Regions from separate parts of the Homo sapiens genome. Here regions 1, 2 and 3 are each linked to region 4. Evidence: fine-mapped expression QTL. A gene starts in region 4. Each other region holds a variant in brackets. All regions are shown on one strand. Distances are between the middles of the regions.

What was found.
Region 1: its variant is fine-mapped to the expression of PGM1 in tibial nerve (GTEx, PIP 0.94).
Region 2: its variant is fine-mapped to the expression of PGM1 in whole blood (TOPMed, PIP 0.92).
Region 3: its variant is fine-mapped to the expression of PGM1 in whole blood (TOPMed, PIP 0.99).

What each region holds. Positions count from the first base shown.
Region 1 is chr1:63,634,167-63,642,274 of GRCh38, reverse strand. PGM1 (phosphoglucomutase 1) reads right to left here. Exons shown (of 11, transcript NM_002633.3): 5 at 7,256-7,446; 6 at 5,887-6,041; 7 at 3,475-3,590. Among named protein-coding and RNA genes, the nearest start is that of PGM1, 45 kb to the right of the region's middle. The variant ATTATATGTGGATTC/C (reference allele first, on the strand shown) is at 3,766.
Region 2 is chr1:63,644,657-63,652,764 of GRCh38, reverse strand. PGM1 (phosphoglucomutase 1) reads right to left here. Exons shown (of 11, transcript NM_002633.3): 8 at 4,113-4,248; 9 at 913-1,096. Among named protein-coding and RNA genes, the nearest start is that of PGM1, 55 kb to the right of the region's middle. The variant T/A (reference allele first, on the strand shown) is at 4,480.
Region 3 is chr1:63,610,501-63,618,608 of GRCh38, reverse strand. The region is part of intron 1 of PGM1 (phosphoglucomutase 1); the gene reads right to left. Among named protein-coding and RNA genes, the nearest start is that of PGM1, 21 kb to the right of the region's middle. The variant A/T (reference allele first, on the strand shown) is at 4,639.
Region 4 is chr1:63,589,282-63,597,389 of GRCh38, reverse strand. It overlaps PGM1 (phosphoglucomutase 1), which reads right to left and starts at 3,979. Exons shown (of 11, transcript NM_002633.3): 1 at 3,656-3,979. The coding sequence starts at 3,901. RefSeq lists enhancers at 2,943-3,002, 3,703-3,992 and a silencer at 3,363-3,662.

The DNA of each region.
Region 1 (8,108 bases), 45 kb before region 4:
CAAACAGACTAATGTATAATGTTAGTAATATTCCAAGATTGTTCTGCAGATGCTAGTGGTTTGTTTTACTCGGTGGACCAGTCCTGAAGTTAGACTCCTTTGCACCTCTTTGCAAGCAAACTTCTTTTCTTTTGTAAAAGTGCATTTCTTCCCGCAAAGACCCTGGGGTTCCCAACCCTGGACTGTGGAGTGGAAGTGGTGTTGAGTCATTACAAGGGTCCCAGACTACGGCAAGAGGTGAGGTGTGGATTCTCCATTGAGGTGGGTGGTTCAGCCAGAAAGCAGTGACCAGTCACTATGGTTCCAGCATCATACAGGAATTTACATCAGATACCTTTTAAAGTTCTTTCTTTTCCAATAGCAGGAATCTGTCTAAATGGAAGGTGCCAAGTGAATAGTGTTCATGAACTCATTCAACAAGCGTTTACTGAGCACCTGTTCTATGCTGGGCTCTACGGGAGGCTCGAGGGACACAATGCAGGATAAGACACATAAGATCTCTGTCCTCATGGCATATACAGCCAACAGACATTAATCAAATAACCATAAGTAATTGTAAAATCACAGCTGCAACAAGTACAACAAAGAAGAGGTACATGGTGCCACAAGAGCCAATAATCAGGGGATTTGGCCCACTCTGAAAGGTCAAGGAAACGTTTTTGAGAAATTGTCTCTCCTATCGCCTGGAAAAATACAGAAATAAAGCACTCTGTGCTCAATTAAGCTATAGAATTCAAATGTTTCAAAGTTCATAGAGTCACTAATGTCTACCCTGAGAAACTCTATGAAAGAACTGTTGGAAACATTCACTAGCAAGGGGCGTGGTTGCTAAAAATTAACTCCTCTATAAATAAGAAGATCAGGAGTTCAGTTAAATAAGCCCAGCTGCACTCGTTCACAACAGCGATCTATGGCTATGCAGCCTGGCTGTTTAAATGTTTATCTCAGAAATATTACACAAAAATTTTCTTTTTTTGAAGAGAGAGAGAGAGAAAGAGCTTGTGATTATCCTCATGATAATGAAGAGCATTCTCTCTTTGGACATGAAATATACCAAGGAGAAGCTAAAACCATGATTGGTACTAGGTATTTGTTGAATGTGTTAATAAATGAGAACAAACTTTAACAATAGTCTAAAGTCTAATACTTTGGTTCAAAGAAATCAATTCCACAAACATAACATGAGAGACTTCCCTTGGCAAATAGTTCTAGGTAAAAACTTTAAGGGTTTAATTACCCACAACCTTATGTGGGCTAAACAGTATTATGCAACTTCCTAAAAACTAACATAAAGGAAAGTTATGTCAAGAAAAATACAGTGTCCTAATCACTAGAAATAATCATCCCACCCCACTCTTCACTTGCCAGGCCAACCCTGGAAGATTTGGGCTCAGTTCTGGGCATCACCTTCTAAGAGTGGCACTGGCAAACTCAGAAGCACCTAGAGTCTGGCACTGAGTCTATAAACAATGTGAAATGAGGAATGACTGGAGGAAACAAAGATGGACGGCCTGAAGAAGGAAGGACCTGAGAGCTGCTTCTTGTATTTGAAGGCCTGTTGTGTAAGAGGAGCAGCTTGTGCTATCCTGTCTTCAGGCCTGTTCCCTGTGGGTCAGCACCAGGGATTCCTACTTGGCTCTGGGGCTCTGATCCCTCTTGACCAAGGCTTCCCACATGGGTCTGTGGAAAAAGAAGTTACTGTACATACTACGAAATGATAATAATAATAATCATTATTGTGGTGATGATATTGTATCATATCATCATAATTATTATATATAGTGGTAAACTATATTTAGGCAAAACTGTACTAACAGGATTCTTTATGGCAGAATGTTCTGGAATCTTCAAATGCTAATATCATTGTGAATATCCAAAACAGAGAAGTGTGGTCCAATTTTTCCAATTTTTCTTGACCCCTAGAACCCTCTCATGGAACTAGTATTCTTCCACATACTCACATGCTCTGGGAAACCTGACTCTAGACTTTTATCTTTTCACTAGGCTCAACACTGATACTGGTACAGGAGAACAGGAAAACAAAGGTTTTGACACAGTTGCTGCCTTCAAAGACATCTTCATTCATAAAGAATGACTGAAGCCAGGCCTGAACTAGATGACCCTGTGGGGAGTTTCATGGGAGAAGACCACCTCATAGGCTCATTGGGCACTCATGTAGTATCCCTCAGAATAGCATGGCACCATGCCCATTATATGAAGTAGAAAAGGACTAAGCAGTGGCCTTGTAATCTCTGATTTAAACACCCACAACTTTGGGAAACTGTCTAGCCTTTGTTGTGGAAGTTGTTCAACCCCAAGACTCATCCAGCCTTCTTCATACCTTCCAATTCTATCAAGGCAGTTCATTGCCAAGGAATATTACCACTCTCGAAAATATCAAGTTGCTTAGAACTCTGTAAATATGTGCCTCCAATTTAGCAGCTCATTCTACCTGCTCTACCTCCAGACTTATAGGAAAGGAAATGAAGTCAGTATTCTGTTCTGTTTAACCTGGCATGAATTGCAACTCAATTGCAAAGCTGAGAGAATGCTTGATTTTGATCTTCTTTTCTTCACTAAAGGGTGACAGTAGAGTACTATAGGACCAAGATCAGCACATTTACTTAAAAATATTGGGTAGAGGGAATAAAAGGAGAAGAGATGCAGTCACTTAACTACCTTATAACCTGGCCGGAGACTGATACATGGGACAGGGCCACACACCTGAACAGACTTTTAGGAAAGAGAGACTGATACAGGCAGCATGAGGTAGCAGAGAAGGTCGTGAAGGAGGTGGGAGTTCGGGTCAATATTTGGACAAGCAGAGAGGAGGAAGGAGAGCGCAGAGAGTGAGGTCTATAGGTCTGGGGTCATCCCCTGAGAATACTATGTACCCTTCTTTCACTCTAATATTAATACAATTACACAAACATCCTCAGGCACAACGATGTATTTTTAATTTCTTGATCACCTAGCAACTTAGTTCCACCCTCATGGTCTTCCTTCATTTAGCCTTGATTACTCTGCTATAGAAAACTTGGGCCTATAAAAGAGAAAGATTTAATGCTGTGCTGAAACCTCTTCTTAAATAAAAACAAAAAACCGACTTGCTCCACCGTATTTCTTCTCAGAAATGAAAACATTTATAAAGGTTTCTTTGACCACCGAAGGAAGAAAAATCTGTTTATCGCTCTGTTTAATCCCTGCAGACTCAATGACCACGCTGCTGAGGAGGCCCCCCAACTTCCTGTCTGAGTCGATATGATCCTCTGAAAGTAAAATTAGCCTTTCTGGCTGAATGTGCTCACCCCTTTTCAAATGTGCACATTTCATCAGGGTTGTTATAAATAATTTGTGCCTTGATTTAGGACACATCGGCTACCGTTGGTATTTCAGTGCTACCTTAGCAGTCTAAGCTTTTACTGGAAATAGTGGTTACAGGGAGGAAAATGCTAGCACAGGAGTGTGACTTACCGGTCCCGAAGCTCTCCTCCCCACAAAGGGACAGTTTGCTCGCGTCCATCAAATTCCCAAAAAACTTCCAGCCAGTTGGGGTCTCATACAAAGCAATCTTTGTAGCACTAGCCACCCTTCAAAGGCATGAAATCAAAGTTACATCACAGCAGGACTGTTAGCGTGGCCATGTGAGGGACGGAAAAGGGCAATCGTTATTGTAATCAAGGGTCCCATTTAGCATTGCTCAGAGTCATACATAATTCTAAGATTGGTGGAAAATCATAAGAGAAACCTTGTGCACAATGGGCT[ATTATATGTGGATTC/C]AGAGAAGGCGGAAGAAGAAAGAATTAATTCAGATCATGGAGTTTAATATTTTAGAAGAAGCATCCGTAGTAAAATGTTCAGGGCTGCTGTTTAAGCTATTTAAATCCACATTTTGGATACAGACTGCATCTATAATCAATCTATAAAGAAGAGAAGAATGATGTTTTGATGCACCTGTAATCACAGAATCATGACATACTGGGTCTGGGCAGTTAGCATTTTACAGAGAAGGAAACAGGGCCCAGAATGTTATGTGATCAGACAAAGGTCACAAAGCCAGGATGACCGACCGCCCAGTATTCAGCTCTCTGGTCAGTGCTGCTTTTGTCTCATCAGAAGTCTCCCCAGGGGAAACGCCCAGTGGGGTCTCCCCTAAGTACTGGCTTCACCCACACTGATTAGTGGTTCCCCTTCCCTTCTAACACGTCTTTTATTTCTCTCTAGGTATCTTTAAACTATTTAAAACCTCTGAGTGACTTAAAAAAAAATTCCTTTCCCTTTGAACATGAAAAGTTACCTGATAAGTTCCATTCACTGTTTGAGCGAGATTTGCTTCCCAGAATGTTTGCCTTATTTCCAGGAAAGCAATGTCAGCTTTGCATTCTGATATTTGAGGAAAAATCAAATCTATGATTTTGAAAACTATGAAAGTACAATAAACTTTTATCTGGGTAATGAGGTACTTCAATTGTGATTCTATATGTGGATTATCAATTTTTCCAAAAATTGGAATTACACTGTTCTTGGATGACATAGAAGGTATTCCAGGACCTGACAGGCCTAACATATGATAGTGTGACCTCAAACCAGCTCATAATTTCAAATGCAGGACCTGATGGTAGACGTGCTGGGCTCAAATGCTAGCTCTAATTTGGTGGTGAGATCTTGGACAAGACTGCTAACTTCCCTGACTTTCCATTTCCTCTTCCTTAAAATGAGGTCTGCTGTGAGGATCAATTGAGATGGTGAATGTAAAAAAACACTATACAAACTACAAACCACTATATGGATATTAGTGGCTATTTTCTTGTTAGCTGAAGCAAAGTCAGCACCAATTCTATAACCATCTCCCCTCTACAGAAAACAACTGCATGGCCCAGTGAGTGGGAGCAAAGGCTCTGGGTTCAAATCCTGAGTCAGCCATTTACCAGCTGGGTGACCTCAGGTAAGTTACTTCTTCGTCCTTTGGTTTTCCCACCAGAAAAATGGTGTTAAATACAGCATTTACCTCATGGGGTTCATCTGAGAAGTAAATGAATTAAAACATGCAAAATATTTAGTGTCTACAACAAAGTAATGTTCAATAAATATCAGCTATTATTATAAGAGCCTAGAGATATATTACAGCCTACTTTCCTCCCTGGCCTTGACCTTTTATTCATTCATTCATTCTTTACCTTTTATTCATCAAACATTTCCTGCACACCTGACATATTCTAACTAATGTTTTCCCTGGTCCTCATCTGTTATGACTTTCATTTTTCAACTTTTTAAGTGTGATCTAACAAGCCACCTCAAAGCCTTTGTACAATGAAGTGATATATAAACATTCACTGTGTTTGTGTGGGCAAGAGCGATCCAGTCGTTGAAACTCTAAAATTACTTCAAACTGCTCTTTCACCCACACTCTGTGCACACTGCAAAAGAAAAGTGATCCTCCAGAATGATGTCTTGAGTACTTCCATTGTTATTCATTAACACTCAACTATTCATTAACTTTAAAAAATTATACGTGTATGTGTGTGTGTGTGTTTGTCCTACTATGTGCCAGGCACGCTATGGTCAGGCAGAGTCCAGATGGTGAACAAAACAGTCCTTTCTCTGCAGAAGTATACAGTCTAGCAGGGCAGCCCATCAAGAAAACAGCTACTAGAACACAGTGTGGTAAGTGCCAGGAGGAGGAGGCCCAGGGTGCCAAGGGAGTGCGGAGAGGGGCATTGAATCCAGAAAAAGCCAACCATCCCCTCACACAAGAATCGCTCAGCACACTCTATGCATCAGATGCCCATGCTGAAAGGGAAGGACACGTGTTCCAGGCACAGTGAAGGGTATGGTGAAGACTGGGACGACCTAAGACAGGAAGGCCAAGGGAATGGAGACACCTACCGGTCCAGAGCACCACTCGTGGGCATGCTCCGTGCAAAGCCGCGGACCCCAGTCTGCTGGAAATACGGAATGCTGAAGATGTTGGCAGCAATGACAGCCACAGAGTCTGAAGGGTTCACAAAGAACCCATGCTTGCCCAGAATCATGTTTCGATCCTTGGGGAGAAGAGAGGATCAAAGAAAGACCTTTTAATCAAACTATAAGAAATCAAACTATCTTTCATGGGGGTTTTATAAAATGTAAAACTATAAAATTTGAAATTGATCTCCTTTCCATACTGCATTTTTAACACTGGGTTTTATTTTCAATGAGTTTATACAGTACCATTGGGCCGAAGGCACCTCCATGCCAAAAAGTTAAAACTGTTTTCAATTAAAGTCCAAGCACAACCTCCTTTTGAGCTGAGTCCTCTGTTCTCCCTCCAGAGGCCAGCTAACTTTAACCTCCTAGACTTTTTTCAGACTCTGGAACCAATCATCTTTTTCCCAGGGGAGGGGAAAATGCAATGAGAGAAGAAATATTGGCTGTTTACATAGTTTGGTAGGTCTACTGGGTAAACTGTGTACCACAGTCTGTGTACCACAGTAACTGGGAGGGTGGCCAAAAAACACTCCCAGAATGCACTCATCACAAAGATGTACTACAGAATAATGTCTGCTGGAACCCCTTTAATTTCCCAACATTTTGATAAGGGAAAAATCATTTTTCAGGAAACAGTGGATTCTAGCTAATGGTAACACTAGCAACAACAAAAATATATTTTCAACTAAGTAAATGTATACAGTGCCTACCATCAGTGAGATACCAGGGATATAAACCTAAGACACATCTCTTCCTTGTCTGGTACATAGTCACCCTTGTAAATAAAACAGCTTATTTCTAAACATTTTAATGGTAGAGAATGATTAAAATGTTAATTCTCTCAATATCATCTTCATATAGGCAATGAAATTACAGCTTCAATATTCAGCTCATGTGAATGAATGAATGGGTGTATTATAAGACCAAAATCTTGTCCAGAGATTAAATAAGTAGCCAGCTGCTGGTTGAGAGCAGAAACCCACCTTAAGACAGGCATCTAGAACTCACCCAGCTCAGGAAATACCAGTCATTCTATCATAATCAGAACCTAATCATCGTGCCATTGTTAGCAAGTATGGATGTCTGAAATTAAATGTGTGGGTTTCATTTCAATGACTCCTATTCCTGTTCAAGAGGGGCTTCTAATAATTTAGTTCTGACCTCGGGTCAGAATGAGGGATCCTTAACAGTTATTCCCTGGGTCTGGCAGAAGCAGCCCACTTTTTTCCCCATCTGCAGGATCAGGCCTGGCCTGCACCAGAGTTCACTTAAATGCACTTATACCCACCCCATCTCCATCAAAGGCAGCCCCAAAATCATGCTCTCCTGACTTCATGGTCTCCACCAGGTCAGCTGCATAGGTGAGGTTGGGGTCAGGGTGGTGGCCTCCAAAGTCCTCCAGAGGAACGCAGTTAACTGCCGAGTTCGCAGGGGCACCGAGTTCTTCACAGAGGATCTTCTTTACATACGGTCCCACAACTATATACAGCATGGAATAAATGTATGCAGAATCAGAAAATAAAACTCCTTAAAGTATGTGAGGATTCAGGGGTGAGGTGGATGCATTCTGGGGAGAAGAATGGCATGAGAAACAACAGGAATGTGTGAAATGTGTTCAGGGACTAGTGGAGAGATACGCCTGACTGGAGAAGAATGTTCTCTAAAAAGGAACAATGAGAGATTATGTTGGAAAAGGTGGGGCCAGTTCATGAAGGGCAGAGTGGGGAAAGGAAAGGAAACCAACCATTATAAAGGCCCTGCGGTATACCTGTGCTTTCCCATTCAGTCCTTCAGAAAAGCTCAGAAGGTTGTACAGCTTAGAGCTTAAGAGCCTGGACTCTGGAATCAGAGTGTCTGGGTTCAAATCCCAGCTCTGCCAGTCATTGGCTGTATAATAATTTTGGGAAAGTTATTTAAACTCTCTGTGCCTCAGTCTCTTCCATCTGCAAAATGAGGGTAGTAATGCTAACTACTTAACAGGATTGATGTAAGGATTAAATGAGTTAATAGCTATGAAGTACTGAGAATAGTACCTGGCAGATATGTTATAAATGTTTATATTATGATTATCACCTGCAGTTTACAGATACATTGGAATGTTGGTGTTCTGAGGTAAAGACATTTGCCCAAACTTACATGGC
Region 2 (8,108 bases), 55 kb before region 4:
TGCTCCCCAGAGGGAAGCCTCCAGTAAATCCCACGGCCCGGCCCTTCCAAACCCTATGAGATGCCTTGACAAGGACCAGGCCAAAAATCTGGGTCAATTGGAAAAAAGTAAACTGGGAGGTTGTAACAGAATCTTCATCCTGCTCTTTATTCTATTATGAATTGTGAGAGATGAGTTTACTCTGTGACAACAGGCAACAGAAGCAGAGGTGAGAGAACCCTGGTGCGTAAGTGTTCATGAGAAGCCAGGAGAAAGCCTGACCCAGCCTGCAGCCTAGGGTACCCGGCACACAGTAAGGGAAGCACTAACAATTCTGTCCACATCTAGAGATGCTCCAGGTCCTAAACTGTGGCGTCTTGCCAGGTACTGCTGTGTTAGGTGGGGTGCCACTCATGTGCTGCGAATGACGATGGTCAACGTTTCTAAGTCTGGGAATGCCTCATCTATTTTTCTCTCCTTTAGAAATTAGAACATACGAGAGAAACGTATAAGTATAATGCCACTTACATGCTGTCACTCTGCTATAATCTGCTGACAGAAAAGAGAGGAGTTGACATCTAAGTTCCCACAGTTCTCCCTCTTTCTTAGATTCTGGGGCTCCTTTCTGCATGTACAATGGACACATCATCTTGCATATCATTCCAGAGAGTGCAAAAATCCCTCTGGAGTCCAGGTTAAGAATCCCAGAATGAGGGTACTGGACAGTGCACAGAACAAGGGCATAAACCACTGTCCCAACGAGTGCATGTGAGAGTCACGTGGGACAGCAGAAAACCAGGTAAGAACAGCTACCCTAGAAAAACACAGCAGCAAAAGAAAAATAGCCAACAGGAACTTTTTAATTTTTCCCTTGAGATGTCAGAGATGAAGCTCTGAGGTCTCTCTCTCACTTACACACCGGTCTGTTTCTACCTGATTTCTTGAAATGCTTCCATCCACTGGGTCGCTGTATTCAAAGTTATCGGCCTTCTCCACAGTGTAAACTTTGTCATTTGCTGAGAACTGCTTCCCCACAAAGGAGCGATCAAACATCAGGGCCTCCAAGTCCTTCATCATTTTGTTTGCGCCCTCAGCTTCCACCTCCTCGTAATCATACCTGGAAGAAGTCACGAAGTTGAGGCCCACGGGCTGACTGCAGATCACACCAAGGCCTATCAGTCAGCACTTTCTTCATCATTTGTTTGGCCCTCCCGCAAAACTATCTAACTTCAGAAGAAGCTGGCAAAAAAAATACAGGCCTGTCAGTCACTGGGGATGGAACAGGCCAGGGATGAAAGGAAGGGTTTGGAGGATTTCAGGGAAGGGTTATGAGCTTCTGAATAAGCAGAAAACACCCATCTTGGCATTTCTACAGAATAAAGCTCTAAGATGTTTCAAAGGCTTTTGAAAGATGCTATCTAACATTTAGTCACCACATCCTGAGGAGGTAAAATGAAAAGCAATGTTATCTCTGGAGAACTCTCTTGAAAGGAGCACGTGACTCAGGCACTTCTCCTCCAAGCTCCCTGGGCTTCTCTGGGGTGAATGCTGGGCCTGCTCCCAGCCTGAGACCTGCCTGAGGCTGCTGAGATTTTGACTAAGCAGAGTTCCAGCTCCACAGGAGCTTCCTAAAGCAGGGCCAAGTTTTCACCGACCAGATGAAGACGCCAAACACTGACTCTTTACATCTAAAATGCCTTTTTTTTTTTCATTAATTTTAGTAAGTTTCAAGATACATGTGCAGAACGTGCAGGTTTGTTATATAGGTAAATGTGCCATGGTGATTTGCCGCACCTATCAACCCATCACCTAGGAATTAAGCCCCAAATGCATTAGCTGTTTATCCTGATGCTCTCCCAATTTTTTTTTTTAAATTTTGTTTTATTTTAAGTTCTGCCTCCCTCCTTTCAGTGGCAGTGGATTTTGGTCCAAGGTCCTTTGGGTTCACCCTGACAGAAGAGGCCCAGTGCGGATGAAAAAGGGCCAAGGAAAAAAGTGCATCACAAATGAAATTCTATAAAGATGAGTTTTCCTTCAAGAATTCTTTTTGACTTCTTTCTTATGATGTTAAAGACTTGTACAGGTGGCTTTTCTTGACCTAGTGGCATACACCCTCTTGAGAGAGTTATTTTTTAGAAGCTCAAGATAGCAGAGTCTATATTTATTTGTAATCGTGAAATAGATATCATATATGCAAGATGACACCTCTGAGACATGAGAAATGCTGAGGAATTAAGGCCAGCCTATTCTGGCTCCAGGATTCTATGAATCAAGGGCCAAACAGTCCCCTTAATCTTAAAGTCAGCTCTTTCCCCTAGTTAACATGATAAACAACAAGAAATTACAACCAGGTGTTTGTGCTTTACATTTTTGACCTCTGGGTACTCCAGAGAAATGTTTTCTAAACCCTAGGCACAGAGGGGTGGAATAGAAGAGTCTGGGTTTTGCAATCAGACAGATGAGCTATGAATCCAGCCTCTATTGGCTATTAATTGTGTGACTACAGGGCCAGCTGCCCTATCTCTCAGAATCTCAGCTACCTTATCAATAACTGTTTTGAGGCTAAAGTGAGACAATGCATGCAAAAGTGCCTAGCGCTTTTGTTCAGTAAGTGGAAGGTATAATGGAGTTTTAACTAATCATAAATGCAGGTACTAAGGATTTGATTTGTAATACTTGGTTAGCAATTATATTTGATAATTAATAAAATCATGTTAAAATAGTTTTTATATGGAGGATTGTGACTAATTCAAGGGTGTGACCCTTTCTCTGAACAACCCCTCCTAACCTTATTCTACTCTGGCTATTGTTCACCTGTTAACTCATTCATTTATCGGTTCAAAACGTATTTATGCAGTCTCTACTATGAGTTGGGTGCTTAGGGCACAAAAACAGACATGGCCTTGTTTTTATGATACTCTAGGTTCTAGACAGTTCATGACTGCTGTTCTGAATGACCAGGTTTTTCTGTCTGTTATAAAGTAGGGATTTTTTTGCCTTGGTTCCCAGGGCTACTGTGTGGTGTCAGGTAGTTATTACTTATTCCTTCCACAAAACAGTAACGTGAGAGAGAAAGAGATCAATGAATCCGTCCAAAGTTAATAAAATAATTCTGATTAAGGAGCTTAATTTACTTAGTTGAATTCTTTCTTGACTATCCAGAGATCACGGACTATAAAATCTGGGATATATTTTTTAAATTCTCTAGTCTAACTCACCCATTTTATAGAACAGGCAACTGAGGTCCAGAGAAATTACACCTATTCATTTCTTATACATAAACAATTCATCTAATATCCTTTTTACCATATTTTCTCTCTATAATTGGAATACTGAGGTCCAGAAAAATTCTTGTTAGATTTTTACACTAACTGGGGGAAAGGCAAATTGGAATTAGTGAAAAGTACTACTGTCAAAAATTTTTTAATGCTTTTTAAAAATAGAAGTACGCATGATAAGGAATAATTACTAAGTATTCTAAGTATTTTGTTCACTGCTGAATTCCAAGTACCCGATGGAAATCGGGTATACAGTAAATATCTGTTGAATAAATTAAAAAAATTATTGACAAGTATATAGCCCTTGGGGACCTATTTCACAAGGCAGAAAAGTCGATGTGGACTAAGCATAACTGTTTCTATAATTTATGAAAAAAAGTTTCTAGGCTTTCAGTGCCCCAAAGTTAACAAAACATTTTCAGACTCATTATTCATTTAATCCTCTCAACAGCTGGACTGTTATTCCCATTTCTACAGATGACAAAACTGAGTACAGAGAAAAGCTAAATGGCTCCCCAATCTAGTAAGGGGAAGAAATAAAATTCTAATCCATTTCTCTGAATCCAAATCCAATGTTATGATCATGTCCACCCAATGGACACATTTAAAATGCTTATAAAGCATTTATTCTTTTGATTATGTTAGCTAAACTTTTAAAGCCTCACTCTTTATGGCTGACATAAAAATTGACTTCATTTCATCCCTGACCAGATTATTTTTAAAGTCTCCAATTGAGAGAGGCTGGATGACCTAGGGTTTTATTAGCACTTAAGACAGGAGAGGCTGTGGATGCGCAAGAATTCTCTCTGCCCACTTCCCCACCTTACCTTGTACCCCAGCTGGGCTGTGGCTCACCTGGTGAAGAAATTCCGGCCATACTTTTGCCAATGATCTTTGAGAATGTCCTCCACACTCTGCTTGCGGGTGGCTAGGATGGAGAGCCAGGCAAGGACAGCCCACAGTCCATCTTTCTCACGGATGTGGTCAGAACCTGGAGGGGGGACAGCAAGCTGCTGTAAGAAACGTGCTTTCTCCCAGTACCTGAGAAGGTACTTGATATGGTTTGGCTCTGCATCCCCACCCAAATCTCATGTTGAGGGAGGGACGTGATGGGAAGTGATTGGATCATGGGGGACAAAGTTCCCCCTTGCTGTTCTGGTGATAGTAAGTGAGTTCTCATGAGATCTGGTTGTTTAAAAGTATATAGCACTTCCCCCTTCAC[T/A]CTCTCTCTCCTGCAGCCATGTGAAGAAGGTGCCGGCTGCCTCTTCATTGTTCTGCCATGATTGTACATTTCCTGAGGCCTCCCAGCCATGGTTCCTGTACAGCCTGCAGAACTGTGAGTCAATTAAACCTCTTTTCTTCATAAATTACCCAGTCTCAGGTAGTTCTTTATAGCAGTGTGAGAACAGACTAATACAGTACTCAACAGTAGGTGTGCAGACCCAAATAAAAGAGTCACACTGCCTGACTGAGGACTTGGGTATACAGGAGGAATCACATATTAAGTAGGCAACATGATACTGAAAAGAAATTGATGCTTCCCAAAGTGATTTAGAAATGTAAGGCATAAGTCAATAAAAATGTCAGTGAGATAATTAGGTGGAATTTGATATATCAGTTATAAAGTATTAATGTGAAGAGAAAACACAATAGATCTTAAATGAACAAACAGCAGAAGAACATGACCATTACAAAATTTCAATAATTCAAATAGTCTGGTAGCTTAATAGAACAAGAGTGCATCTGGAAAGAGATCCAAGCACACAAGAGGCTTGAGTATGACAAAGGTCTCACTGCAAGGCTGTGGGAAAAGAGTAGATTACTTTTTAAATGGCGTTTGGATAACTGGATAAATAGCTTTAAAAAATTGTTTTCTTCCCTATAAAACACCATAACAAAAATAATTCCAGTTGAACTAAAAATTCGAATGTAAAACCTGAAAGCTTTTAAATACTAGTATATATTATATTAATATACATGTCTTTTTATATATTTATATATATAAATCTTAGGGGTGATAAATAATGTAAATTCGGTATTCATAAAAGAAAACACTGATGTATTTATCTACTTAAAAATCAGCATTTCTATAGTGTAAAACTACTATGGACAAAATTAAAAGCCCATTGACAAACTTTAAAAAATTAAAGAGATCTGGTTGTTTAAAAGTGGATAGCACTTAAGGTAGATGTTTAATACTATATATATATATATATATATATATATATATATATATATATATATATATGTAAAATTTTATTTTTTGAGACGGAGTTTCGCTCTTTCGCCCAGGCTGGAGTAAAGTGGCATGATCTTGGCTCACTGCAACCTCTGCCCCCCAGGCTCAAGCGATTCTCCTGTCTCAGCCTCCCGAGTAGCTGGGATTATAGGTGCCCGCCACCATGCTCAGCTAATTTTTGTAGTTTTAGTAGAGACAGGGTTTCGCCATGTTGGCCAGGCTGGTCTCGAACTCCTGACCTCAGGTGATCCATCCGCCTCGGCCTCCCAAAGTGCTAGGATTACAGGCGTGAGCCACCATGCCCGGCCACATTTGATATATTTTAAGGCAGATGTTTAATACATTCAATATAGAAAAAATTCTTATGTATGAATAAGAAAAAAGAATTTCAATAGAAAAACAGGCCAAGGATATCAATAGGCGATTTGCCAAACAATACACATAGACACATACACCCAACCAATTAGTATAATAAAAAGCTGGTGTTATTTTTAAGAAGAAAAATTAAAGTTAAAACCACAATGAGAAACTGCTACTTGCTTGACAAAAGGTGTAAAAATCCACAAGTGTAAAAATCCGAACAGCCAGTGCCAGGAGAATAAAAGGGAAACGGGATTCCACCAAAGAGCTGGTGGGAGTGGACGCTGGCACAATCCTTCTGGACATCAATTTGGCAAAAAAGGATCAAAGCCTTCAAATTGGACCTACTCATGGATCCAGCAACTCCAAGACACTGTTCTTTAACCATTAAGGTTTGGTTAAACAAACCTTAATGATGTCTCTTAAAGGAGACATCTGTCTCCTGCTAAGGTCCTTGCTAAAATCTTTAACAAAATTTTAAAATGGGCTTCTCGGGAGGATGTGCTTATATGCATGGACACCCTTTTCCAAGAGCCTGATATGGAACACAACTCTCATTTTTTTGCCTTTAAACTCTTTATTCTGAAAGAAAGCAGTCTACATGGAGCCTTATTTTCTGATTTCTGAATAGAACTGTACACAATTGCTCTATAATCATGCTCTCACATTATCCTATGTTGAATTCTTTATGTGCCTGCCCTACTGCACTTCCCGCTGGTCTTATTCTTCTTGGAATTGTTAGAGTATCTAGCACCATGCTGGGTATGCAGGAGGCACGTGGTGTTTTTCCTTCCTCTCTTCATCTTTTCAGACCCAGCTCAAATGTCCTCTCTTTTTTAAGACTAGCTCCCAACTTCCCTAGGCAGTCATGAACTCCCTTCTCTTTCTTCTCCTGTAGCAACCTGCACAAAACATCTGGGGTGGCATCAGCCTCCTCGAGTCTCAACCATCTGTTTGTGAGCCTTTCTCCCCACTAACTGTGTGCTTCTTACGGGCATCTCTTATTTATCCTTGTAATTAAGTCTGGTGACTAGCATAGCACAAGGAATACGGTAAATAACTAATTATGAAAGACTGTGTGAATGAATCAACCAATCAATTTACTCCAACACTTTCTCTTTCTATTTTTGGTTCTTAAAAAAACATGACTTTTTCTTTCAAAAGACTTTTCTCTTCAATAGGATACTACTTTTAGAAGTTAACAGTCCTCAAAACCCGGATGCAGGCAAAACTAGAGAGTAGGCAATATTTTTAGTGCTTTATATAACATATTTTAAAAATGTTTACCTAATTTTACTATCTTTAGACTTTTATTTGCCCTTACTGCTATTTTAAGGAGCAAAAAGCTCTCTGGCTCTTACGGCTTTTGCAAATGATATGTTTTGGCAACAGTTCATCCTGAGAAGCAAGATTCTGGCAGCTTCCCTAATATATTGGGAATTCATGACAGCATATACAGCTTGGAATTATTTGTCTGTGCCCCACTGGGTTTTTTTCTTCCTTCTTTTTCTCCTTAATTTTTTTTTCTTTTTTCTCTTTTGGCTAGACTGAAAGCATAGAAGGCAGTGTTCCTTGTGGCTTTTCCTGCCCTAAGCAAGGAATTTGATTTTTTCTTTTATGTGGAAATGAAAATAAAATCTAAAAATCTTACCCAACTCTGGCCAAGTTACTTGGAGATAACTAAATCATACACCTAATACTATAAACAAAATACCTGCCCTGGGTAACATAAACAAATATCCAATTCCAATTGCATAATCCTCAGCCTCTTTGGATATTCTGGTTCATCACTAATCACCTTGGATGTATCAAAAATTCCAGGTAATTCAATTAATACTCAGGAAGTTGGAGCAAATTTCATTTTCTTCAGGGTTCTGATGAATGATGCCAAGTTTCCAGTGGAAAATACCAATGGTGCAGGTACGTGTTTCTAAAGCTATTCTTTTTGCAGTTGTGGCTCAGTAGATAAAGCTTGATACTTAAGAATCAGATAAACCTGAATTTGAGGCTCTGTTACTTGTAAACTACTTGAATTTGGACAAATCACATTTTCTGTGGCTCAGCAGATAAAGCTTGATACTTAAGAATCAGATAAACCTGAATTTGAGGCTCTGTTACTTGTAAACTACTTGAATTTGGACAAATCACATTTTCTGAGCCTCAGTTTCTTCAACTGCAAAACAGAAATAATGCTAACTTCTCTCTCATAACTGTGAGAAATTACTACGAAAAAGCAAGTAGAAATAGTTTAT
Region 3 (8,108 bases), 21 kb before region 4:
TGTACAGATGATGAAATATATCACATAGGATACAAATAATAAAATGAACATAGTATTAATATTTTTGGAGTAAGGGGGGGAAAACTAGGTATATTTGGCATTTGAAATACATTTAAGAAATGTGGGATATTAGTTTATCTAAAGATTAGCCTTGTGGTTCCAGTTTATAATTAAGTGCAGGTTGTGTTACTTATTTAGACAGGATTTTAAGTTTAAGGAGGTATGAGAAGAATTTTATGAGAAGAATTTTATCAAAATTATAAACATTAGTGGAACATTCCAGAAAACTTGGACTGTATTATATTTATAAGTTTAAGTCATCACATGCAGACAGTATACTATAGTACTTGAGGGAATGGCCTCTAAAGCCAAAGTGACAGGGTCTGAACCCTTATTCTACCAGTTACTAGTAATATGATCTTGGACAAGTTACTTAACCTCTTTGTGCTTCCATTTCCTCATCTGTCAAGATGGAGATAATGATAGCAGCTCTACTTTACTTGTTGTAGTCAAGTTTGAATGAAGCAATTTACAGATAGTTCTGAAACCAGGGTGGCTATAGTATGCCCTGTACAAGGATCTGCTGTTATTATTTGATTACATGAGAACAACTTGAATACTTGAAAAGTTTTCCTTATTAGACAAGGAATTTTAAAAGAAAACAAATATTTGACTTAAAAATTTGAAATATTCATAGGTGCTTGATTAAATGAGTTTGTAAAAAAAAAACCACACACACTGAGAAACCTAATTTCCATTGACAAATGGGTCAGCAGAGAGAGAGGAAAATGAAACAGATGTGCTGAGACAACCAGGAGACGCTGCCTGGGTTCCTCTTGTTTCAGGGTCTTTTTTTTTTTTTTTTTTTTTTTTTTTTTGTGGGGAGGCAGAGTCACTCTGTCTCCCAGGCTGGAGTGCAGTTGTGCAATCTCTGCAACCTCTGCCTTCCAGGTTCAAGCAATTCTCGTGCCTCAGCCTCCTGAGTTCTCGTGCCTCAGCCTCAATCCCACCTGAGCTGGGATTACAGGTGTGTGCCACCATGCCCTGCTAATTTTGGTAATTTTAATAGAGACAGGGTTTCACTGTGTTGGACAGGCTGGTCTCGAACTCCTCATCTCAAGCGATCTGCCCGCCTGGCCTCCCAAAATGTGTCTCAGGGTCTTGAAGTCCATCTGCCCCACCACTGCCTGTGGCTGCAGGAGACGCCCCTCTCTCTGTGTGCAGTCCTTGTGTGTCAGGCCTCATAGGGGCTCACTGAACCCTAATTGGGCTTCTGCTACTTATAGCTGCTTACATCTCTTTACAGGGCTGACCAGGGCTCCGTAGTACCTGGGTCCTGTTTGCCAGCTGTGAGCCAGGCCTCACCTGCTGTCCAGTACAGGCAAGAAAAGGAAGAGAGAACACTTCCTCCCCTTCTCCTTTGAGCTCCCTCAGTCCACAGCAAGGAGACAGGCCGAGTACCATTTTCTGACTAGGGGACCGTGGGCAAGGGATGTAGGCTCTTTGTGCCTCTATTTTCTCACCTTTGAAACAGGGATTGAAAGTGGTAGCTACTGCATAGATTTGTTGTATTAAGAGACAGGAGTTTACAAATGTAAAGAGCTTAGCACCAGCTGGTTCTAGTGCTTTGCAAGCCCTGCGTAAGTATTAGCCTTTAGCACTGCTCTGAATCTGAAAACAAGCAGGCGTGTTTCATACCCAACAATTGGGACGGGCCATTGGCTATGTGCATTTTAGTAGAGTTAGGAAATGTTCTCTAAAGAAAAGGAGAAATTACATTAAAATTGGAAGAAGGTACAAGGTCAGAAGAATTACAAGGGCCAGATGGCTTAGAGCTCTACAGAATCCCATGTTCACAGAGACTCCTGAAGTAGATTTTGAAAATAAAAACAAACATAACAGCTGCCTCTGCCTCAGAGAGTGTACAACCTTTAGCACGCGTCAGTTGGCTGTCCATCTGTTCACCCATCCATCTACCCAATATGTCCTATATAGACCGATGTGTTGTATTCATTTCACCAGGCACTGTACACCTCAGGAAGACTCAAGTTGCCAAGAAACTTTTGGTGCAGAAGGAGAGATAGATAAGCCAACAAATCATTTTAAAATGGAGTAAAAAGTACTCATCTGGGAGCCTACAAGAGAGCTATGAGCACTCACAGGGCAGACAAGAAGCCATGGAAGGCATTCTCCATCTGCATAATTGCCATTCTGAACCCATGTGGTTACGTCTGAAAACAATCTCCTCAATTTGAAGATGTGCAAGGCTTAGGAACCCCTTTTCATAAGTAAGGCACGTGTGAAGGAGTCTCCTGTTTTATCAGAAATGACCCATATTCAAACATTTTGACCTATAAAAACAGCCATTTATGTGGTTCATATAACATTTTTCTATGTCTTTTATTTCCTTTTTGGAGAATTCTCAAGACAATTTGAATTTCAATCCCTTAAGAATATTCACTTGGCGCTAACAGAAGAACTTTCCCCATTCTAACTTACCAGGAGCACAATTATTAAAATTCTTTGGTAAAAAGAGAACCAGTTAAGGAATCGCTTTATTTTCAAATCATTCATGGTCATATGTTGCCCTCTTGTGGTGGAAAATGGAAAAACAAGCAAGATTGCCAGCAGCCTCGTAAGGGGCAGTGCTTCACTCACCTCTGCCCAGAGCAGCCTTGCACAACTCTATGGGCTCCCTTCACCAAGATCACAAGGGAAATTGTGCCCCTTTAAGTTTTGTGGCAGGCAGTGGTTGGCCCTCCATCAAATAATTAAAATATGGTGGGACTCTGGGGCTTTTAAGAAGAGGAGAGAACTCCTGACCTCAAGTGATCCGCCTGGCCAACATGGTAAAACCCCGTCTCTACTAAAAATACAAAATTAGCCAGGCATGGTGGCAGGGCCTATAATCCCAGCTACTCAGGAGGCTGAGGCAGGAGAATCGCTGGAACCCGGGAGGCGGAGATTGCAGTGAGTCGAGATCGCGCCACTGCACTCCAGCCTGGGCAACAGAGTAAGGCTCTGTCTCAAAAAAAAAAAAAAAAAAAAAAAAAAAAAAGAAGAAGAAGAAGAGGAGAGAAATGGTGAGGTTATTTTCTGTCTGTCTCATTATTAAGATCATTTTCAATTATATGGTCTGGCCAAAATAGGATGTCCGGCTGTAAAGGACATGAAAGAAGGTGGCCACAAAGAGGGAACATCCTTTTCGATGGGGTCCTTGTAAGCCAGAGTTTCCATAAAATGCAGAGAGTGAAGCCTCCTTTAGAAGGTTCTGAAAGTAAATGAGGAAAGGTATGTGTGAAATGCTTCTCACAATGCCTGGCCATATAGTAGACACTCAATAAATGTTATCCAAACTACTAAAAACAGAAAGGGTATTGATAAGGACTGATCACATCCTTCTAACACATCCCCTGATCTCGAAAGCAGGTAAGCCTAGGTAGGAGGGCATAGATGCAATGGGTTTATCTGTGGATAAATACTGATTAAACATCTCCAATGGTCCAGGCACTGGAGGAATGGGACAGGTAGCAGAAGGAGGATTTAAAGAATCAAGTACAGTCCCTGCTGTAACCACTGGGCTCTGGAGTCAAACAGGCCTGAGCCTGAATCCTTGCTTTGCTCGAACCTTCTAGTGGTATATGGCCTTTCTGGCCTCAGTTTCTTTATTTGTAAAATAGTAAGGACAATGATGCCTGCTCAAAGGTAGTAGAAGATAAATTCAGTAGGCCACAATGTGCTGGGTCATGTTTCAAATGCATTACAAGCATTAACTTATTTAATCTTCACAACAACTGTATAGGGGCTTATTATTCTCAGCCCTTATCCTAGGGATAAGGAAAATGGGGGATACAGAGATTATGTCATCTGTCCGAGGTCAGGTAGATTGTGGAGATGGGCTTTGATTTAGTGAACTGTCTGTATATCATTCATTTTACATATAGATTTGATTCAGCCAACCCAAGTTAGAAGGCTTGCTCTAAGAAGACACCAGGTCATACGCAGTCTGTCTCCAGAGCCCAGACATGTAACTATCATGCTACCTTGCCTTGTAATGTAATATGCAGCCAGGTGAACAGCAAAGACTCAATAAACAAGAGCTTTTAAAGCATGTGGGTAAATGTGGGCATCTGTGGGAATTCCTTAGATGGGCAGTGGCTCATGGGGGCAGCAGCAAGGCATTCTCTCTTGGCCTCAATCAAGGCTTCAGTGAGAGCAAGGCTTTAGGGATATAAAAAGTTGGACTTTCCTTAAAAAGTTTAGGAACCCCTAGACTGTAGCGCTACATAACTATTAAAAAGGGTCTTGAGGAATAGAGCACAGTGGAAATCCAGGTTCAAATTCCAACTCTTGATACTTTTTAGTATCTTGGAGATCTTGGGCGAATCACTTAGCTTCTATTTCTGCATCTGTAAAACAGAAGTCTAAATACCAATCAATTAAGAGTTGTTGAAAAGACTATATGAGATCATGTAAAGTGCTCAGCACAGTGAATATCATTACATGTAGGTTTTCATGCAGGCTTAATAACAACTCAGTGGTGTAGGTATTCTCACTATTCCCATTTTACTGATAAGGAAACTGAGGATTAAAGAAGTTACACGAGTTGCTCCAGGACTCACAATAAATTGGAAAGGC[A/T]GGCTTCAACACCAGTTTTAAAGCCAAAGCTCACGTTTCTCATCATTGGGCTATGTATGGCTCCTTTGGATGATCAAATTTGTTTAAACTTGAAGAAAATTAAGAGGAAATAGATCCCAAGTGACTCCCAAAGGGCTACTGCCCAAGTGCAAAGTATATGTGCTTTGGTGTCTGTACAAAACCCACCTGCATTTGGTGGACAGAGTATAGATGTCATGGTTGAATGGTGCACTACTCCCGCCCCCTCCAAAAAAAAAAAAAAAAAAAGATACATTGAAGTCTTAACCCAGGAACCTGGGGATGTGACCTTATTTGGAAATAGGGTCTTTGCAGATGTAATCAAGTTACAATGAGAGCATACTGGATTAGGGTGGCCCTAAATTCAATGACAGGATTTAGGAGAGGGAAATTTGGAGACAGAGACAGAAGAGATACATAGGGAAGAATGCCACGTGAAGACAGAGGTAGAGATTGAAGTTACACTGCACCAGGGATTGCTAGCCACCACCAGAAGCTAGGAAGAGGCAAGGAAAGAGTCTCCCCTAGAGCCTTCAGAGGGAGCATGGTCCTGCTGTCACCTCGATTTCAGACTTCTAAGCTGCCAGAAGTGCAAGAGAATAAATATCCATTGTTTTAAGCCACACAGTTTGTTACAGCAGATAGCAGCCCTAGGAAACTGCTAAGTGCTTAAAAAAAAAAAAAAAAAAAAAAGATAAGCCAACTCCTTTTGCAGCAGAGTGGCTGGTCTGAGTGACAGGCAGTCTGGGTAGACTATTCCTCTACCCTGCCCCCCAACCCCCTACACCTTTTCTTTGCCTCAGAGTGTTTGGTTTCTAGCATTAAGTAACCCTGCATGGGCCATGCTCCATATACACAAACAAGCTTCCTCCTTTGCTCTGTGGTATGGAGAGACTGCATCTCACTCATTTTTAACCTCAGTACCTGGAATGGGGTTGGGCACATACAGATAGTCAATAAATGTGTGAGTGACTAAAATATTTAAGTGAGAGCATCAAACGACCCCTGTAATTAGTGTTTCTGAGCAAGGAGGCGAGTTTTCAGGCAGGAGTCAGGAGTGGTTTCCCTTCCTGAGACCAACCTCAAATAGAAAATTACTCCCCTAATCACAGACAACTTCCCAAAGCACAAGGTGTCTACAACAGAGGGCACTCTGCCTGGAACTGGCATTCCAAGTAGTTGCAATAGCACAAAGTCTTGTGCAACAATTACGAACAGAACTAGAAACTGCAATAGTGAAGGAAGTAGAGCCAGTTAGTCTGCATGGTTGAGGCTGAAAGCTTATAATTGCTTCCCAGGATAACTGCAGGCAGAGTGATGAAGGAGGGGTCTTCATGGCGCTACTCAACATGAGGTAGAAAAGTGGTGAGAGTAAGAGAGAAAAAGAGATGAATGCAAGCGAGAAAAAGAGGGTCCCAGCTGACCTAGCATCCCAGCCCCTTTCCTAATATTAGAGCAGTAGGATACAACACAACCACACTGTATGTCAAAATTTTTTTTGCGTCTATAAATGTATAATTTAACTTAGTGAACTATATATCAATCATTCTACGTATGGGTTCAGGCCAGTTGACCCAAGTTAGAAGGCCTGTCCCAGTGAAGACAGTAGGTCACATGCAGATGGTGTCACGTGTCACGTAACCTGCTGGTTAAAGAAAGAGAGTCAGAGCAAACTGATAGAGCCTTTTTTTTTTTGAGACAGAGTTTCGCTCTTGTTCCCCAGGCTGGAGTGCAATGGTGTGATCTCGGCTCACTGCAACCTCTGCCTCCCAGGTTCAAACGATTCTCCTGCCTCAGCCTCCCAAGTAGCTGGGATTACAGGCACGCGCCACCATGCCCGGCTAATTTTTGTATTTTTAGTAGAGATGGGGCTTCACCATGTTGGCCAGGCTGGTCTCGAACTTCTGACCTAAAGTGATCCACCCACCTTGGCTTCCCAAAGTGCTAGGATTACAGGCCAGGCGTGAGCCACCACGTCCAGCTCCTGATAGCCTTAATATGTTACTGGGCAAATACTTCAACCCAATCCTCCTTACAAATAGCATTTTCTGAGAAGGAGTCTCGCTCTGTTGCCAGGTTGGAGTGCAGTGGTGCAATCTCGGCTCACTGCAACCTCCACCTCCCCTGGTTCAAGCGATTCTCCTGCCTCAGCCTCCCGAATAGCTGGGACTACAGGCATGTGCCACCACACCCAGCTAATTTTTGTATTTTTAGTAAAGACAGGGTTTCACCATGTTGCCCAGGATGGTCTTGATCTCTTGACCTTGTGATCTGCCTGCCTTGGCCTCCCAAAGTGCTGGGATTACAGGTGAGAGCCACTGCGCCCGGCCTACAGATAGCTTTTTAGGTTTTTGATCCTGTCTCCAAAATCCTCCCTTCCCTCAGGGCCATAAGAGAATTCCCAGGCTGGGCCTTAGGATAATTCCCAGACTGGGTCTTATGTTGGCCTGTGTATAAAAGAAAGCCTCAGGGGTTAAGGACCTGTGTGACCTCAGGGGTTAAGGCAGCTGAGTCACCGGCGGCCTCCCTCTTCCCTTCCTGCAATGCTGGAGTTAGGATGAGTCCTACTTTACAGTCTAAGGCTGTGCTTTTACTTTCTACAAGGATCTCCTTGTTTTGCAAGGGCTGCTCCCACTACACAGAATGTCTTCTTCATACCCCCATGTCTACACTTTTTCCTGGCTTCCTCTTTATCATCCTTCAGGACTTGGCTTAAACACATCTCCCCTGGGAAGCTTCCTCTGACCACCCCTGCGTGTTCCCCTCCCTAGGGCCCCCAATACACCCTAACGAGGCACTTCTCACACTATATTGCAATGCCCACTTGCGGAGACCGTTTTATGCACTACTGCATGCCCCAAATACACAGCACTGTATTAAGCAATAAGAAAACATTCAGTAAATGTTTCAGGGATGGAAAGCACCCCATCAAATCTTATTCACGGAGATTTCTGGAGCAAGTGGACCTAATCAACTATTCACCAGAACCACTATCCTAAAACCATAAGGGGTAGACCTGGCATACAAACACCAAACACCGTAACCAGTACTTAAGCTACTCAGGATCAATTTTGCTTACTTTGGGGCTGGCTGCTGTGTTCTTTTGAGAAAACTTAAGTATCAGGCTGACGACATATTACTGAAAACCTAAAGTTATACAGAACAGTTCTCCCTCCCCCCAGGCTCTGTGCATGAAACACTCTCTGTAAGAAAGATATTTCTGTTCTGAAATTTATAAGCTAATAGGTGTAGAGCATCTTGACAGGTCATTGGCAAATCTGGGAAGAAGAGAAGTTAAAATGAGGGGGTAATGGCCGGGAAACCTTTTGCAAGAAGTTTAAAGTGTCTGTATTTCCCATCAAAACCCCCAACATATTAATTTCACAAATGAGTAAAGAAGCAGCTCAAGCAATTTGCCCAAGATTAAACAGCTAATAACTACCATGTCCAGG
Region 4 (8,108 bases):
CCTCACAACAGGCTCTTCAGGTATGTATTATTCCCAACCTTTGTGGATGAAACAAAAAAGGACTAGAAATTTGTATTTGTATCTAATCTAAACTCCCTCAATTTGTATTCATTCTGCTAAGAATTCCTCCTACCAGACAAACCCACTCTGGGAACTCCAAGTCATTCTTTAAGACTCAATTCGGCTACCACCCCTCTATGGAGCCTCCCTCCCTTCATCTTCCCCTCCCAAGTACAGCCCCTCAGGTTAAAGACACCTGCACATCCCTCCATCACAACACCTGACACATTGTGCTGTCTGCTTACTCCTGTATACCACCCCTCCCAGACTATGTCTTTCCCAAGGGCAAAAATATTTTGTATCTCAAGTACAATGTCTGAGGCAAAGCAAGCACATAATAAATGTTTGATGTGAATAAATTTATTGGTCACCAGCTACATGCTGGCTTTAAATCAAGTGCTAGAATACAAAAGTGACTCACAGTTCAGAGCAAATAAACAAGAATTCATTGAATGCTACATAGTCCTAGGCATTGCAGATACAGGTAAAACACAGGTCTGACTTAAAGAAGCTTACTCTCTAGTTGGAGGCCGTTGACATGTAAACGGAAAATTTCACTAGAATTTAATATATATATTCTAGAATTATCTATGGGAAAGGAGCACTTAATAGGTGGAGAAGAGTGGTAGGGATGGGGTGTCAAGAAAGGTTTCTGAAGATGCCATCTGGACTGAATCATATCACAAGAGAAAGAGTAGCATATTTAAATCCCGAGTGAGTAGAGAGAGTGAACAAAATCAGAGAACAACCTGAGCGTAGAAACCTAGGGAATAGGCCAGGCGCAGTGGCTCACGCCTGTAATCCCAGCACCTTGGGAGGCCGAGGAGGGTGGATCACCTGAGATCAGAAGTTCGAGACCAGCCTGGCCAAGATGGTGAAACCTCATCTCTACTAAAAATATAAAAATTAGCCAGGTGTGGTGGTGCATGCCTGTCATCCCAGCTACTCAGGAGGCTAAGGCAGGCGAATTGCTTGAACCTGGGAGGCAGAGGTTGCAGTGAGCTGATTGCGCCACTGCACTCCAGCCTAGGCGACAGAGTAAGACTCCGTCTCAAAAAAAAAAAAAAAAAAAAAAGAAGAAGAAAAAAGAAAGAAAGAAAGAAGAAAGAAACCTAGGGGATAGTCAATGTGCAGCCCATGAAGGAACTTCCAAAAAGTGTGAGTAGAATCAGGAGAGTAAGCAAGGCCAAGGGAGGAAGAACTTTACAAGAGTACAAAATCAGCACTGCCAAATGCAGCAGAAAGGCCAAATAAGATTAGACCAGAGTGTATTCCATGAATTTAGCAACTGGCAAGTCCCTAGTAACTTTGGCAAGAGCAATTCTACTGGAGTAGTGGAGGGGGCAGAAGCAGTGAAATGGCGAGTAAACCGGAGGTGAGAATGAGAAATAGTGAATGCAGAAAGCTTTTACAAAGGTTGGCTGAGAGAAGAGCAATAGGGCAATGGCTAAAGGGTGATGAAGTTTTAAGAACTTTTTTTTTTAGTCTTAACTAATTCTTTCCTTCCCACCCCACACTACTCCCAAATGGACAAATTTCCATCTGGGCACCTAAAATTCCCACTCTGCTGTAAGCTCCTTAAGGACAACTCTTGGGTCTGCATCATCCTTTTAGTCCACACATTTCTCTGAACATGGTATTCAACAGGATCTGTTGAATGACTGACTGAATAAATGAATGAATGAATGAAATGCAAATTCAGCACAGGTGGTAACAGGGAAATGATCTACTGGGATACAGCTATTGTCTGTTCTTCTTTCATGGGAATTTGCGCTTGTCTGAAAATTCAGGACCACAAAGTAAACAAATCCAGGCAATCTTCTCTCACTGATGCTTATAAATGTTTGGCCCAGGAAGGCAGATGTAGATAGAGCCCAGTTTAGATTTTGGAGCCTGGAAAACAGATCTTCAAGATCAAGGGCTGTTCATTCTTCATTCTCAGGAGCTGTTCAAGTTCTTGGGATTGGCAGATCTATATTGGACTCTTAGTGCTGCCATTATAGTTTTTGTAAATTATTTAACCTACCTAAGCTTCAGCGTCCTCGTTGGCAACTTGAAGATACCCATAATAGCATCTACCTTATAGGGCTGCAGGAGGATAAATGAGACCCAGAAATGAAGCGCTTACCATAGTGCTTGGCAAATAGTACTCAATGTCAACAAAATAAGATAAATAAAGTACTATTAAAATGAATAAAAATATCCATTTCAGGGGATGCGTTCCAGAAGAATTGGGCATAAGTCAAATCTCACTTAAAATATAGAAAGAAAACTTGGTCCTCAGAACTCCTTAGAAATGTTTTACAAAAGTAAGTGAATAATTAGCCCCAACTTATCAATCCACTTTTTTTTTCTTTTTTTTTTTTTTTGAGACGGAGTCTCGCTCTGTCGCCGAGGCTAGAGTGCAGTGGCGGGATCTCAGCTCACTGCAAGCTCCGCCTCCCGGGTTCACGCCATTCTCCTGCCTCAGCCTCCCGAGTAGCTGAGACTACAGGCGCCCGCCACCACGCCTGGCTAATTTTTTTTTTTTTTTTTTTTTTTGTATTTTTTAGTAGAGACGTGGTTTCACCGTGTTAGCCAGAATGGTCTCGATCTCCTGACCTCAGGTGATCCACCACCCTCAGCCTCCCAAAGTGCTGGGATTACAGGCGTGAGCCACCATGCCCGGCCCCACATTTCCATATATCAGATTTACTGAAAAACTTTTTTTTTTTAATTTCCCCTATCCGAGTGGACCCGCCCAATCAAGTCAGTTAACTTTCCTTGGCCGGGGGCGGAACCAAGGTGTTGCGGTAATTTCCTGGCCTGCCACGACTGCTTGCTTGCGTAAGGGCGTCTTTGGGTATGTTGCCATTCTAATGAAAATTCAGCTCCAGCCCCGTCGGTGGAACAGATCCCGGGCACCACTGGGCAGAGACTAGATGTTTCAAACGCCTGCCCCCCAGCAAGCAGGCCGCGCAAAGGGCAGGAGTTCGGAACCAAGGCAAACTAGGGGGCGGGGAGAAAAGATTGGCACCCGCCTGCTGAGATCTGCCAACCTGACGCCCCAGGGGGATGGGTGCTCTCGCCACCCTTGCCCCACAGTGTCGGGCTCCGAGCCAGCGGGAAGCGCCAGTCCTAGCCGAGAATAGCAGAGGAGCGGGCGGGATGCGAGGGGGCTCTGGGCGAGGCGGCGGCAGTCTAACCTTTCCTGCTTAAGGCGACAGCACTCTGCGCCGTAATCGTATCTTCCAAGGCTGCAAGGTTAGGGCAAATGTCAGACGCCTCGGGAGGGGCGGGGGACGGGGAGAGGGAAGGCAGCGGCTAGAGACGGAGAGTCGGGCGTGACCTTGGGAGGCTCCGCGCCCGCACCTCCCGGCGCCCCGGGAGTCAGGCGAGCAGGTCTGCCGGGTCCCGTGGCCACTTTCCCCAGCCCGGCGACCTCCGTCGGGCCTCCAGGCCAGAAGAGCGAGCGCGAAGGAGAGGGAGGAGCGGGAGGTGGAAACCGAGGCGGCAGCGCGCGGAAGCGGCCGGCCCCGAGCGAGGGAGGGCGCCGCGGGCCGCACGTCGCACACGCGCCAGGGTGCACAGCGGCGCGGGGCCGCGCATCCCTTACCCCGTTGGCGGCAGCGATGCGAGCGATGAGCTGGATGGCCTCCTTCATGTAGAACCGGCCGTCCCCGCCCACCACCAGCGTGGCCTCCTGCCGCTGCGCCGGCTCCACGGTGGAGATGATACTCTGGATGAAGTTCTCCGCGTAGTTGGCGCTGCTCTGGAACACCTTCACCCGCTTCCGCAGCCCGCTCGTGCCCGGCTTCTGGTCCTGGTACGCCTGGGTCTTAACTGTCACGATCTTCACCATGGTGGCGACTTGCTGCCGGGGGTCAGAGCGGCGGACTTGGCTGGCGGAGGGGCGGCCGGCTGAGGCTGCAGCTGCTCTGGGGTGAGGGCACGGCGGGTGGGGGCTACGCCGCACTCTAGGCCGGCGTTTGGCCCTCCTCCTTAAAGGGACAGGGGACAGGGCCCTCCCTCCGCGCCAGCCCACCTCCTGGCAGGTCCGGCGGGAGGGGAAAGGGGAGCGCCGGTCTCTAGGCCTCCTGTGAAATGGGTGGAGCCTTACTGATTTACTCTCCCCTTCGGAATCCTATCCACTGTAAAAAGAGGCCCGCAACTCCTCCTCTAAGTGTTGGGGCAGAGGTTGGGGTAGGAACCCGGTCATAGGGCAAGGACGTGAGGCAGGGTGGAAAAAAGTACAGGGTAGAATGATTTCCAGTGGTTTGGCGAATGCATCGTGTGTAAATAGCTTTCTGGAAACCTGTTGGGAGGGTCAGAAGTGCCAGCCCCAGCTCGATTTCATGAGTCGTAATTCTTTCTATTTCTCCCTAAATGTGAGGGCATTTGAGTTCCGTAAAGGAGTCGACTCCAAATGTTTCCTGCTGCACCACACACTTGACTACCATTGGTGACGGTGACTTAGCTATGACTTGCTGAGTGTAGCGTTTCTAAACCTTACTAAACTCTGGGTTTTATTTTTCCCCTTTTTATGCTTACAAAACTGAAATTCAAAGAATAAAATGCCTTGTCTCATTGCCACACAGCTAAGTCCATGCGGGAGGCCAATTCAGGTGGTCTGGCTCCAAAACCAGGGCTCTTCCCATGATTTGCCCGCTGTGACACCAGGTTGGCAACTAGGAAATGTACAAGCAGGACTTGACAAATGTAGGAGCAAATATATGGTAAGGATAAGTATGAACACCATCAAAATTAGCCAGTTACTCATGTAATAGAAATAAAGTGAGGAGATCAACAAACAAGGACTGACATGGCTGGAAAAGTTTCACGGGGGATAGCAAGGTCAACCAAGGGGATTTGATTATTAAGTAGGAATCTTCAGTCTTTCTTGCTTTTCGGTTTAGTATCTCCCTTAATTTGATGAGAGTGATTGTCTCCTCTGTTCAAGAAACCTGTCATTTTGGTAAAGTGGCAAAAAACTTGGCTTTACAAGGTGTGTGCTCTTGGGAAAGTTAGTTAATGTCCGTGGGCATCAATTTCCTTACTGTAAAATAAACATATCACCTACTTTGGAATATTTTTGCAAGATTTAATGGGGTTTTGTATGTCAGAAATTCTCAGTCATGGATACACAGTAGAATCCTACTGTGACCCATGCTCACAGTAGAATTACTTGAGGTGGTTTCTAAATGACCCAGTCCAAACAAATTCAATCATAATCAGCTGTTAGAAGTAAATCATCTAGCCTGGTGCCTGAAACATAGAGGCCTTCAAAAATATTAGCTCCCCTTCCCCAATTCCAAAACCAGAGCATATCATTCACCTGTGAATTATATTCTTTTGGTAGTTAATTGGTATGTCTTGATCAAGCAGGGAGGCGAACAGACCCATAAGAGTGCAGACTCTCACAAACCAAGTGTTGATATACATGCTCATATAGTACATGCTATGTAGATACAGTGTGTTGATGTAGTCACTATAGATGAGTTTCGGTGGCAAATATTATGTGAAAACGGAACCCTGGACTGCTAGTAATGAGTTCTAATATTTGCACAGGAGTTTACAGAGCAGTGTAATCTTGTGAATTAAATAATATAATCAAGCCCATTTTATAGACGAGAGAATTGAGGATTGGATGGTGAATGTAATCAAGGTTATCTAACTCCACAAAATGAAAATATAGCATAGATTCACTGAGCCTTCAAAATACCTACCTTAGAGTTGTATGGTTTAGATAGAGAATATACAGCTCCTACCACAGTGCTAATAAGTAAGTCATCAATAAATGATAACTTGTAAAGTCACGGGCCCAAATTCAGATCTCATGCCCTTTCTATATTCTTCAGTATCTTTGGAAATATGATGGAGCTTTTCATTTAAGAGGAATTGATCTATACTTCTCTCACCCCAGAAGTTGTAACAATTAGCTTTAACTGCATAACACACCAGTCTAAATCTGAGTGGCTTAAGACAACCCCCATTCATGATTATAGTTCATGATTCTATGAGTTAACTGGCAGTTCTGCTGTTCTGGACAGGGTTACTGTGGCCCCTTATACAGACCTAACATGATCCCCATGTTCCTTGCCTCCTGATAATCATGCCTTTATGCAATCCCCTTGTATTACAGATTGAGTATCCCTTATCCGAAATGTTTGGTACCAGAAATGTTTCAGATTTTAGATTGTTCCGGATTTTGGAATGTTTGCATTACAATGGTTGTGCATCCCAAATCCAAAAATCCCAAATTCAGAATGTTCCAATGAGCACTTCCTTTGAGTGTCATGTTGGCACTCAAAAAGTTTTGGATTTTGGAGCATTTTGGGTTTGGGATTTTTGGATTTGGGATACTCAACCCGTACTTTTCTACTGCTGTATGACAAATTACCACAAACTCAACAGCTGAAAACAACACCCATTTATGATGTCACAATTCTATAGATAAGAAGTCCCAATTCTATAGATCAAAAGGTTTGGCCAGGTTCAATCCTGGTAATCACGGATATATAACAGCTTATAAACATCAAGGAGAAAGTATTTTGACCTTCATTAAATTCTTTTTAAGGCAAGCATACCTGTTTAAACTGATTTGTCTATAGCCAGTTGGTTTAATTTCATTGAATTCTTCCCAGAGCCTCAAGATAAGAACCCACCCAAGCTTGGTGCGTTCTTATCTGGAGCCTCTGGGAAGAACACCTTGATTTGAAGTCAAGAGCCAAGCTGGCTTCTTATCTGGAGGCTCTGGGAAGAATTTCTTTCAAGTGTTAAAGATAAATAAAAATAGAGGCTCCAGTTTAGATATTTTAAGTCCAACCACCCATAGCCAGGTAGCCAAAACTTAAGTCATCCTTATTTCCCTGAAACACTTGCTCTAGACATAAACAAAACACAAAATGTCCTTGACAGTGTGAGTCAATGAAATTAAACCAATCAGCTATAGACAAATCAGCTTAACAGCTCTACTCGCCTTAAAAAGAATGTAACGAAGGTCAAAATACTTCTTCCTCAATGTTTATAAGCTGTACTGTAACTGCTGTGAGCTGGGCTTCTTGCCACTTTTGGTTAGATGTCTTCCAGTTTGTAAACTGTTCTTTGTATGCATGCTAAACTTTTAAAAATTTTTAAAGTTTGATCTGATTTTAACACAGCGCATTCAGATTGCTGGCAGGATCTATTTCCTTGCAGTTGTAGGATTGAGGTCCCCATTTCTTAGATTAGACCTACCTGGATAATCTCCCTTTGTAACGTGTTCATAGGAGTAATGTATCATCGTATTCACAGGTTCTACCCACGTTCAAAAATTGACTTGCAGAGATTTCCAAGTTGTAGTATTTATGAAAAGCAAGAGAAGGAGTCTTATTCCCCTGTGGGTAGCACTGAAATCGGGAAAGAAGCCATTGGAAATATACCAAGATATGCAACAATGATTACCACTGAGTTGCAAGATAGGGCAATGTTTATTTTCTTTATATTTTATCTGGATTTTCCAGGTTTTCTATAGGGAATTTGTATTATTTTTAAAATGATAAGTACATATTATGTATTTTCCTTTTCTTTGAAATACCTTTTAAGTGGTAATCCTTACTTTTTTTTTTTTTTTTTTTTTTTTGGAGACAGTCTCACTCCATCACCCAGGCTGGAGTGCAGTGGCACGATCTTGGCTCACTTCCACCTCCACCTCTGGGGTTCAAGCAATGCTCGTGTCTCAGCCTCCCAAGTAGTTGGAATTACAGGCACATGCCACTATGCCCAGCTAATTTTTGTATTTTTAGTAGAGATGGCGTTTCGCCATGTTGGCCATGCTGGTCTGGAACTCCTGACCTCAAGTGATCTGCCTTCCTCGGCCTCCCAAAGTGCTGCAATTACAGACATGAGCCGCCACACCCGGCCCTCATTATTTCATTAATGAATTATTCTTTACCATTTAGATGTATTCGTTCGTGTATTGATTCATTAACTCTATAAATATGTTTTGAACTTGTACTAAATGACAGCTCTTTGAAAGGTGTTTGATGAATAAGACAAAATAGTCTCGGCCGGGCGCGGTGGCTCACGCC